Homo sapiens: one gene and its partners. The protein of the gene in region 3 purifies or fractionates together with the protein of the main gene of each other region. This does not show direct contact. Each region holds a gene or a part of one and is shown on either strand. Other genes may lie near its edges. The genes, in order: ETFA, MTRR and SMS.

Evidence for each region.
Region 1: the proteins of SMS (region 3) and ETFA purify together in Homo sapiens (affinity purification with mass spectrometry; one large-scale study listed by BioGRID and IntAct). This does not show direct contact.
Region 2: the proteins of SMS (region 3) and MTRR fractionate together in Homo sapiens (co-fractionation; one large-scale study listed by BioGRID). This does not show direct contact.

Annotation. Positions count from the first base shown.
Region 1 is NC_000015.10:76,301,327-76,305,058, forward strand, and holds part of ETFA (electron transfer flavoprotein subunit alpha, mitochondrial), read right to left. Parts: intron 1-3,732. UniProt on the Homo sapiens protein: Heterodimeric electron transfer flavoprotein that accepts electrons from several mitochondrial dehydrogenases, including acyl-CoA dehydrogenases, glutaryl-CoA and sarcosine dehydrogenase.
Region 2 is NC_000005.10:7,889,588-7,893,319, reverse strand, and holds part of MTRR (methionine synthase reductase), read right to left. Parts: intron 3,060-3,732; coding exon of another isoform or gene 2,952-3,059; exon of another isoform or gene 2,908-2,951; intron 1,949-2,907; coding exon 1,906-1,948; intron 594-1,905; coding exon 407-593; intron 1-406. UniProt on the Homo sapiens protein: Key enzyme in methionine and folate homeostasis responsible for the reactivation of methionine synthase (MTR/MS) activity by catalyzing the reductive methylation of MTR-bound cob(II)alamin.
Region 3 is NC_000023.11:21,978,709-21,982,208, reverse strand, and holds part of SMS (spermine synthase), read right to left. Parts: intron 3,333-3,500; coding exon 3,243-3,332; intron 1-3,242. UniProt on the Homo sapiens protein: Catalyzes the production of spermine from spermidine and decarboxylated S-adenosylmethionine (dcSAM).

The DNA of each region.
Region 1 (3,732 bases), on a different chromosome or scaffold from region 3:
AATGTCTGATATTTCTTACCACTATAACCCTAGACTCCAGTATCCAGCACAGAGCTGACACCAATAAGGGAAGTGAACATTTTTTTTAAAGAACTCTTCGTTGGCCAGTCGCAGTGGCTCACGCCTGTAATCCCAGCAATTTGGGAGGCCGAGGCCGATGGATCACCTGAAGTCAGGAGTTCGAGACCAGCCTGGTCAGTAGAGTGAAACCCCATTTCTCCTAAAAATACGAAAATTAGCTGGGCATGGTGGCACACGCCATAGTCCCAGCTACTCAGGAGGCTAAGGCACAAGAATCACTTGAACCCTGGAGGTGGATGTTTCAGTGAGCCGAGATCACACCACTGCACTCCAGCCTAGGCGAGAGAGACTCCATCTCAAAACAAAACAAAACAAAACAAAACAAACACCTCTTCATCAAAGGAATGAGAACACAAGCCATAGACTGGGACAAAATATGTGCAAAAGACATATCTGATAAAAGACTTATCTAAAAAAAATAAAGAACCCTTAAAAGTCAACATAAAAAATGAACAATCTGATTTAAATAGGGGGAAAGGATCTGAACAGGTACCTCACCAAAGAAGATGGCCAAGAAGCATATGAAAAGATGCTCAACATCAAGATGCTCACTAGGAAATTGCAAATTAAAACGAGATACCACTACACACTTATTAGAATGGTAAAAAACCAAAACACTGACAATACCAAATGCTAGTAAGGATGTGGAACAACAGAAACTCTCATTCATTGCTGGTAAAAATGCAAACTGGTGCAGCCACTTTGGAAGACAGTTTGGCAGTTGCTTATAAAACTAAACATAATCTTACCATACAATCTAGCAACTGCACTCCTTTGTACGTACCCAAATGAGTTGAAAACTTAGGTCCACACAAAAACCAGACGTCTACAGCAGGTTTATTCATAACTGCCAAAACTTGGAAGCAACCAAAATGTCCTTCAGTAAGTGAATAAATATTCATACAATGGAATCTTATTCAGCAGTAACAAGAAATGAGAATGACATGGAGGAACCTTGAATGCATATTACTTAGTGAAAAAAAAAACAGTCTGAAAAGGCTACATGCTGTCTAATCCCAACTATATGACACTCTGTTAAACGCAAAACTATAGAAACAGTAAAAAGATCAGTGACTGCCAGGGATTAGGAGAACAAAGCATAGAGGTTTTTTGTTGTTGTTGTTTTGTTTTTTCCAGGGGGAGTGGGGGCGGGGGCAGTGAAACTATTCTGTATGATATAATAATGGTAGATACCTGTCATTATCCATTTGTCCAAACCCATAGAAGGTACAACACAAAGAGTGAATCCTAATGTAAACTATGGACTCTGGGAAATGCTGATGTCAATGTAAATTCATTAATTGTAACAAATGGACAACTCTGGTGCTGTATGTTGACAGTGGAGGAGGTTGTGGGTGTGTGGACCAGGAAGACTCTCTGTACTTTCCATTGGATTTTGCTGTGAACCTAAAACTGCTCTAAAACATAAAGTCTATTTTCAAAAAATTTTATTTTTAGAGACAGTGTCTTTCTATGTTGCCCAGGCTGGCGTCCAATTCCTGGGCCCAAGGGATCCTCCTGCCTCAGCCTCCTGAGTAGCTAGGACTACAGATGTGTACTACCACACAGGCCAAACTCTACTTAAAAACAAAACAACACAAAACAAAAAAACTTCTGCCAGGTGCAGTGGCTCACACCTGCAATCCCAGCACTTTGAGAGGCCGAGGCGAGTGGATCACCTAAGGTCAGGAGTTCGAGACCAGCCTGGCCAACATGGTGAAACCCTGTTGTCTCTACTAAAAATACAAAAATTAGCTGGGCGTGGTGGCAGGAGTCTGTAATCCCAGCTCTTCCGAAGGCTGCGGCAGGAGAATTGCTTGAACCCAGGAGGCGGAGGTTGCAGTGAGCCAAGATTGCACCCTTGCACTCCAGCCTGGGTGACAAAGCAAGTCTCCATCTCAAAAAACAAACAAACAAAAAATGATTTAAATGTAAGACCTCGAACTATAAAAACCCAAGAAGAAAACATAGGAAATGGCATTTTGAACATAGACCCTGGCAAAGATTTCATGACGAACACTCCAAAAGAAATTGCAACAAAAATAAAAACTTACAAGTGAGACCTAATTAAACTAAAGAGCTTCTGCACAGCAAAATAAACTATCAACAAAGTAAACAGACAACCTACAGAATGGTAAAAAAAAATCTGCAAACTATGCATCTGACAAACGTCTAATAACCAGAATCTATAAGGAACTTAAATCAACAAGCAAAAAACAACCCTATTAAAAAATGGGCAATGGACATCAACAGACACTTCTCATATGTGGCCAACAAGCATATAAAAAAATGCTCAACATTAACTAATCATTAGAGAAATGCAAATAAAAACCACAATGAGACATCTCACACCAGTCAGAATGGCTATTATTTAAAACTCAAAAAACAACAGATGCTGGCAAGGTTGCAGAGAAAAGGAACGCTTATATACTGCTGGTGAGGATGTAAATTAGTTCAGCCACTGCGGAAAGCAATGTGGCGATTTCTCAAAGAACTTAGAACATTCGACCCAGCAATACCATAATTGGGAATATACCCAAAGGAATATGAACCATTCTACCATAAAGATACATGCATGTGCATGTTCATGGCAGCACTATTCACAGTAGCAAAGACATGGAATCAACCTAGATGCCCATGCAAGGGATGGACTGGGTAAAGAAAATGTGGTATATATACACCATGGAATACTACACAGCCATTAAAAAGAATGAGATCATGTCCTTTAGAGCAACATGGACAGTGCTGGAGGCCATTATCCTAAGTGAATTAATGCAGGAACAGAAAAACCAAACATGGAATGTTCTCTCTTGTAAGTGGCAGCCAAACATCAAATACCTATGGATACAAAGAAGGGAACAATAGATACCTGGGCCTATTTGAGGGTGGAGGGTGGGAGCAGGGTGAGAATCAAAAAATTACCTATTGGATGCTATGTTCATTACCTGGGCGGCAAAATAATCTGTACATCAAACCCCCAGGACACACGGTTTACTCATAATAAATCTGCACAGATACCCTGCAAACCTAAAATTGGCCCAGGAGTTTAAGACCAGCCTGGACAATACAGTAAGACCCTGTTTCTATGAAAGATAAAAATTAAAAAATTAGTCAGATGTGGTGGCGCATTCCCGTAGCCCCAGCTACTTGGAAGGCTGAGATGGAAGGATCATTTAAGCCTAGAAGGTTGAGGCTGCAGCGAGTCAAGATCACACCACTGCACTCCAGCCTGGGTGAGAGTAAGACTCTATTTCAAAAAAAAAAAAAAAAAATTGGGGGAAAAAATACAGCAATGATAAATGATTTTAGACAAAACTAAAAAATGAAGTGATGTTTTTATCTAAAGAAAATCCTCGGCCAGGAGCGGTGGCTCACACCTGTAATCCCAGCACTTTGGGAGGCCGAGGCGGGCAGATCACAAGGTCAGGAGAGCGAGACCATCCTGGCTAACATGGTGAAACCCCGTCTCTACTAAAAATACAAAAATTAGCCGGGCGTGGTGGCGGGCACCTGTAGTCCCAGCTACTTGGGAGGCTGAGGCAGATGAATGGCGTGAACCCAGGCAGCAGAGGCTGCAGTGAGTCGAGATGGCGCCACTGCACTCCAGCCTGGGCAACAGTGAGACTCTGTCTCAAAAAAAAAAAAGAAAGA
Region 2 (3,732 bases), on a different chromosome or scaffold from region 3:
ACTCCCAATGTAAAACTACTTATTTGAGAGGCAGTATACATCTTAAACATAAAATGAGACTGTCTCTCATCACCCCCCTTAAATACTTCCTAGACAGTTCTCCACCCCTCCCCAGGCCAATGTACCAAGAATATCAACATAAAAGGTCTTCTTTTCCATGAATAGGACAAGCAAAGACCGTACTATATAAAATTCATGCTTTATACATTCAGAAAATACACACACTAGTTAAAGAGTACATGGAAGTAAACAGTTTTCTGCTCTTGCAATAGAGATTTTAAAATTCAAGAACAGCATAAATTTTCTTATGACAGTAATGAATGATGTGGGTGAGACAACACTGTTTTTTCTAATGAAACAAAGAGTATGAGTTAACAATGCTGAGGTTAAGGTACTAATTTCTTACCTTAGGAGCCAGGGCTTTCCCGCTGTCTTCATGGGATGCATGTATGTTTGGCTGAAGAACTGAAGCAACCAACAAGGCCAGCCAGCCTGTACATACTCCCTTCCGCAGAACCTCTGTTGTGGCAGTAGACAGAAATTCCACAATGTTGAAGACAAAATGGAGCTTTCCTGGGTGAAATAAACTTGAGCTGCAAAGATACACAGACAAGTTTTGAACTCGATATCAGTACTACTACACATATGGGTCAAACCAATCCTTTTATTCAGTTTAGAAATATTTCCTTATAGGCTCTAATCTACCTTCCAAATCCTCACAGAGGAAAGCCATTATTACGTAATTAAAAACTGCCCCCAACCTTCACACTCTCACACCCTACATTTTGTTATTCAAGAAAGTTTCCAATTTTATTTGCTTGCACTAGGACTAGATGATATTTATAAAATCTAATATGCCCTAAGGATCTTCATGTAAAGGATTCATTCACTCAATATTTATTATAAAGATGTGAAGAAATGGGGATAAATTCTAACAAATATCCATACATTATCTACTGGTAAGATCATAAAACTTGAAAGTGACTGAAGTATACACCCAGAAAGGAGAAAACTAAAAATTCAAAGTAAAAACATCTTTAAAAGACATCCCTACAAAAGTAGATTTCTTTTCACATTACACGGTAAATAATGCGAAAGAACTTGAGTTCATTCTTAATTCCCCTTTCAACCAAAAGAATGGTGCACCTTCTTGTATTATTACTGAAAGGCAAAACAGAGAGCCAGACGGGAAAACGGTAGAGGCTGTGCAATGGAATGAAGGCCACAGGGAGAATCCTATAAGCCAGTGCTCATCAAATATTCTTTTTTTTTATTTTTTTGAGACAGGGTATCACTGTCGCCCAGGCTGGAGTGCAGTGGCTCGATCTTGGCTCACTGCAAGCTCCGCCTCCCGGGTTCACGCCATTCTCCCACCTCAGCCTCCCAAGTAGCTGGGACTACAGGCGCCTGCCACCACGCCCGGCTAATTTTTTGTATTTTTAGTAGAGACGGGGTTTCACCGTGTTAGCCAGGATGGTCTTGATCTCCTGACCTCATGATCCGCCCGCCTCGGCCTCCCAAAGTGCTGGGATTACAGGAGTGAGTCACCACGCCCGGACTCATCAAATGTTTTATAGTGGAACTTTTCTGTCTCCCCTGCCTCCGGCTGCCACTCAGTGAAGGTGGCTGGGCACACGGACACAGGAAGCATGTGGAGGAGCCTGAGACTCCTAAGTGGGGAAACATAGTACTGGGCCATGGGAAGCCACCCAAGATGTTAAATTCTATGAAGTCCCAGAGGACAGGAGCTCTATGATTCTTCTTCTGCTTTATTATGCCTGGTACTGTCTTCCATAAAGCAGGTAAGTTTTCACTGAATAAATTAGTAAACTCTAATGATCTGGAAGCCTGAGTCTAAGATTTTGGAGAAACAATGCTATATATTACGTGAATAAATAGTAGTACCTTGCACACGAATATGGTCTGGGTTGAAGTTTAGGAAGATGTTCTAGAAAAAAATAAAAACAAGCAATTATTAATTCACTACTACTGAAAATAACCTTACCTAAAAAAAAAAAAAAAAAAAAAAATTCCATGTCTTATTTAGAATACTCAAATCATGTTCTAGTTTTAAATCATAGTTAAGCACTTGAACTTTGTGTTCAAGTAAAATATTACTATTTTTTCTTTCAACTCCTAAAGTTAAAAACCAGATAAGATGCATTTTCTTACTCTTAAATCAGTATTTCTACCCAAAGGCGAATTTTAAAAGCAAAGGCTTCTAGGAATGGGTCCATAAGTTGGCTTCAGAGGTGAGGAGCTCAGCAAACCCTTACTAGGTATATGTGCAGTTTTCTGCAGGGAGGTGCGCAGTTTTCTGCAGGGAGGTGCCCAGTTTTCAGATTTAAAATAAAGTCATGATCCCAAAAAGATTAAAGGCTACTCTTTCAAGAATTACTGAAAATGCTTAGGCTTGAAATATTTTCCATCTTACATTTAAAATAATTAAAGTGTTTGGTTTTTAAAAATTTATCAAAAAAAATCAGTGATTTCAAAATACGTAGGTATTCTTTCAAAAGCAGGTTAAATAATCTGTATTTAAATATTGAACTATCCACTAATAAACTTTGAAATGTTTTATGTTTTGGTATGTTTTATTTTTAGCAGTTACTTAATTGAAAATATGAAAAGGTCTATGTATAATGGCGTAGAGTTTTAAACATCAAAATAAGGTTTAGTAGGGTGTTCAACTTAATATCAAGCTTTAGATATTTTAATTGTTCTTAATTAGAAAATAATATAATTTTTTATAAGTCCCAATGACTTTAATTTTTTTATATAACTACGTAATGTGGTATTGTTACAAACATTCTAACATTCTAAAAGGTAACAAAAAATCTACGAAAAGAATTGAAATAAATTAGTATGCGATAAGAGAACTTTCTAATACTACTTAGAACTCCCCACCCTGTGTTCTGTCATCCTATTCCTGCTGATGGTTCTCGAAGACTTCACTGAAGAGGGTGAGAGGGCCAGCCTGAGGACAGGATGGTGAGAAGAGCAGCCTCATTCAGCAACACGGTCTTAGCATTTTGGGGAGGTCCTAAGTGGAAAAAACACTAAGAAAAAGGAGGAGAAATCAGGCCCTGACTTGCAAAGAAGGGTGCCTTTAATTGTACTGGGCATCGAAAAGGATCTTGCTGGCCCAAGAGTAAAAAGGACAATATACATTTTGGTGTCACCAAAGAAAAATGCAAATGTTAAAGGCATAACTACTTACCACTATGGGAAAGGAGATGACAAAGTTACAAGCACAAGAAAGTAATAAAGGCTTTGAAGTCCTATAAAGCGCTTAGTCTTCACCCCTAGCAAGCATTTTCAATCCCTTCCTGAGAGCCACAGAGAGGTCCTAGGACATCGACTGCTCAGGGACAATGCTGAGGTCTCTTCTGTTGGAGTATGAGGACTAGAAGAGTCACTCTGGGCAAAAAAATGGGTTACTCTTCATCTGAAATGGGATGATGGTTCTCTGCCTGGCAGTACCATGAGTATGTTGATTTGCACTGGTACGACACAGTCCCCTTTTGCTCTTGAAGGACCCTCGATCTGGACTTGCTCAGATGGGGGCATTTCTGCATTCTGCACACAGCACAGACTGCATCAGCCTCTTTCAATTAAATATGATGTTCGTTAGCTTTGAAAAAGAAAATTTTATAGGAAGCTCATTTTTAGACATTTAGCTAAACAACCTTTCTGAAAAAAGTTAAATTAGAAAAGATGCTCAATTCTGAG
Region 3 (3,500 bases):
CCGCCACCACGCCCAGCTAATTTTTTTTTGTATTTTTTTAGTGGAGACGGGGTTTCACTATGTTAGCCAGGATGGTCTCGATCTCCTGACCTCGTGATCCGCCCACCTCAGCCTCCCAAAGTGCTGGGATTACAGGTGTGAGCCACCGCGCCCGGCCTGTCTTGTGGTACTTTTTACAGGTTATTTGACTTATTCTGAGAAGTACCAGTAAATATCCTCTATACCTTTTTAAATTTAGCTAACTTCATTTCTAAGTTGTAGGGACTCTGCATTATTCAAGGGATCAATTCCCTGTCATGCTTGTTACTAGTCTTTCTTCTAGTCTGACTTTTGGCTTGGTAATGACAACATTATAATACCATTAACAGTTTGAGTGTCCTATCTTTAAGAGATTTCTGAACTCCAAGGTTAAGTACTCTAAATTGTCTTAAATGTATTAGTTTTTACATTTAGAGCCTAAGTCACCAAAATTCCTATTTCTATTGTTAGCTAACTTGGTTCTCATGCAGATGGATAACTTCTTATACCGGCATCACACACTAACTCAACTAACGCTTTTCCCAAGTCAACTGAAATGTATCTTAGACCATATTAGCAGTGTGTAGGAATACATACTCAGACCTGTTCAAGTTCCTTTGACATTCCTAGGTCCTTGTGTATTCCTTTCATACTTCCTATTTGATTATCGTGCCTTATAGTACATTAACAACAAATAGGACATATTTCGCTTCACACTATGATTCTTTTTTCAAGTTTTCTTGGGTATTCTTAGATACTTATTTTTACAAATCAACTTCAAAATCAGTTGGTCTACTTTTAAACCCCTCCCCCCTCCTTGGGATTACTCATAATAAATTGGGAAGAATAGACATTGTTCCTTTTTTTTTTTGAGACGGAGTCTTGCTCTGCCACCCAGGCTGGAGTGCAGTGGTGCAATCTTGGCTCACTGCAACCTCCACCTCCCGGGTTCAAGCAATTCTCCTGCCTCAGCCTCCAGAGTAGCTGGATTATAAGCACCCACCACCACGTCGGGCTAATTTTTGTATTTTTAGTAGAGACAGGATTTCACCATGTTGACCAGGCTGTTCTCCAACTCCTGACTTCAAGTGATCCACCCACCTCGGCCTCCCAAAGTGCTGGGATTACAGGTGAGCCACCAAGCCCGGCCTGTTCTTTCAATACAAGAAATACAGCATGCCTCTCCACATATTCAGACTTTGATGTCTTTCAATAACATCTTAACATAATTCATACCAGTCTCACAATACCATTCTTGTTAAATATATTCCTAGGAATTTAACACTTGATTACTTTGAAAGGAAATGGGTGGGAAGGAAATCCTATTTAAATGAGTTAGCATTTAGTATAGAGAAAAAATCTAGGCTGGCTTTATCCAATCACTTTATCAAATTCTCATTAATTCAAATAATTTCCTACGTAAGTTTCCTGGATTTTCTAGTATTCACATCATCTACAAATAATTAGATTTATACTGTTTTCATCTACTTTACTATCTCAGCTACCTCAAAAAATAATGTTGAAAAAGATAATAGGCATCCTCATCTTCTTCCTATTTTCAGTGGAAATGGCTTTTGCTATCTATTATATTTTCTATTTTTCTATTTACCACAACCTAAGTTTCTATTAACGTTCAGGTAGTTTCATCTCTATTGCAATTTTATTTTATTCAAGTAATTTATAATTTAACTTTTATTTTAGATTCAGGAAGTACATGTACAGATTTGTTAGATGGAAATATATATATATATATATATATATTTTTTTTTTTTTTTGGAGACAGTCTCCCTCTGTTGCCCAGGCTGGAGTGCAGTGGTGCAATCTCAGCTCACTGCAACCTCCACCTTCCGGGTTCAAGCGATTCTCCTGCCTCAGCCTTCCATGTAGCTGGAATTACAGGCACACGCCGCCACACCTGGCTAATTTTACATGGCTATACTGCATTAGTTTTTATTTAAAATGACTGCTAAATATTCTCAAATTCTTTGTCATCTGTTATTTTCCTCCTTTAAATTATTCACCTAACGAATTAAGTTGACAGATTTCTTAAAATTGAAATCTTTACACTTCTAACTAAATCCTACTTGAGCATAATATAGACTTAATTTGCCAGATTTAGCTTATTATTTTACTTGGAAATTTTGTACATATGTAAAAGCAATCTTTAGCTTTGTGTACTACTTGATTTTTACTACTAAGGTTTCTTTTTTATTATTATTATTAAGGTTTTTTTTTTTATTAAGATTTTTTTTTTTTTTTGAGACATTCTCGCTCTGCAGCCCAAGCTGGAGTTAGAATGGCCATCATTAAAAAGTCAGGAAGCAACAGATGCTGGAGAGGATGAGGAGAAATAGGAACACTTTTATACTGTTGGTGGGAGTGTAAATTAGTTCAACCATTGTAGAAGACAGCGTAGCGATTCCTCAAGGATCTAGGACTAGAAATACCATTTGACCCAGCGATCACATTACTGGGTATACATACAAAGGATTATAAGTCATTCTACTATAAAGACACATGCACACGTATATTTATTGCGGCACTATTCACAATAGCAAAGACTTGGAACCAACCCAAATGCCCATTAAGGATAGGCTGGATAAAGAAAATGTGGCACATATATGCCATGGAATACTATGCAGCCATAAAAAAGAATGAGTTCATGTCCTCTGCAAGGACATGGATGAAGCTGGAAACCATCATTCTCAGCAAACTAACACAAGAACAGAAAACCAAACACCGCATGTTCTCACTCCTAAGTGTAAGCTGAACAATGAGAACACATGGACACAGGGAGGGGAACATCACACACCGGGGCCGATCGGGGGTAGGGGGCTAGGGGAAGGATAGCATTAGGAGAAATACCTAACGCATGCAGGGCTTAAAACCTAGATGATGGGTTCATAGGTGCAGCAAACCACCATGGCACGTGTATACCTATGTAACAAACCTGTACATTCTGCACATGTACCGTAGAACTGAAAGTATAATAAAAAAAAAAAGAATTAATTTTATTTAATTCAGAGAATCTGGAGTTGGTGCTTTCCCATCATTGGTACGTGTGCACCCTAAATACAAATATACATATAACTCATATGAAGAGACAGATGATGTATTTATCTTCTCAACCAACTATACTAAAAGCTGTTTTAATAAGGCACAATTCTGATCAATAACTTATATTATTAGTTCACTTAAAACTACATTATCCAGAAAACAATTACCTGATAGCAGTCTCCTTTAAGATTGTCTAAGACATCGCCACACGTTTTTCGCATGTATTTCTTACACCCATCAATCACCATTTGGTCAATGTCCGCAACAGGTTAAGGAGAATTTGGGTATATCAAAGAATTCTGAAATAGTAATACTTTAAAGAAAGGATTAAGACAAACAAAGGTTTTATAATACTAACTTGGGTATCACAAATTTAACAAAATGATGAATGAGGCAGTGACTTTATTTTCACACTAAGGACACTC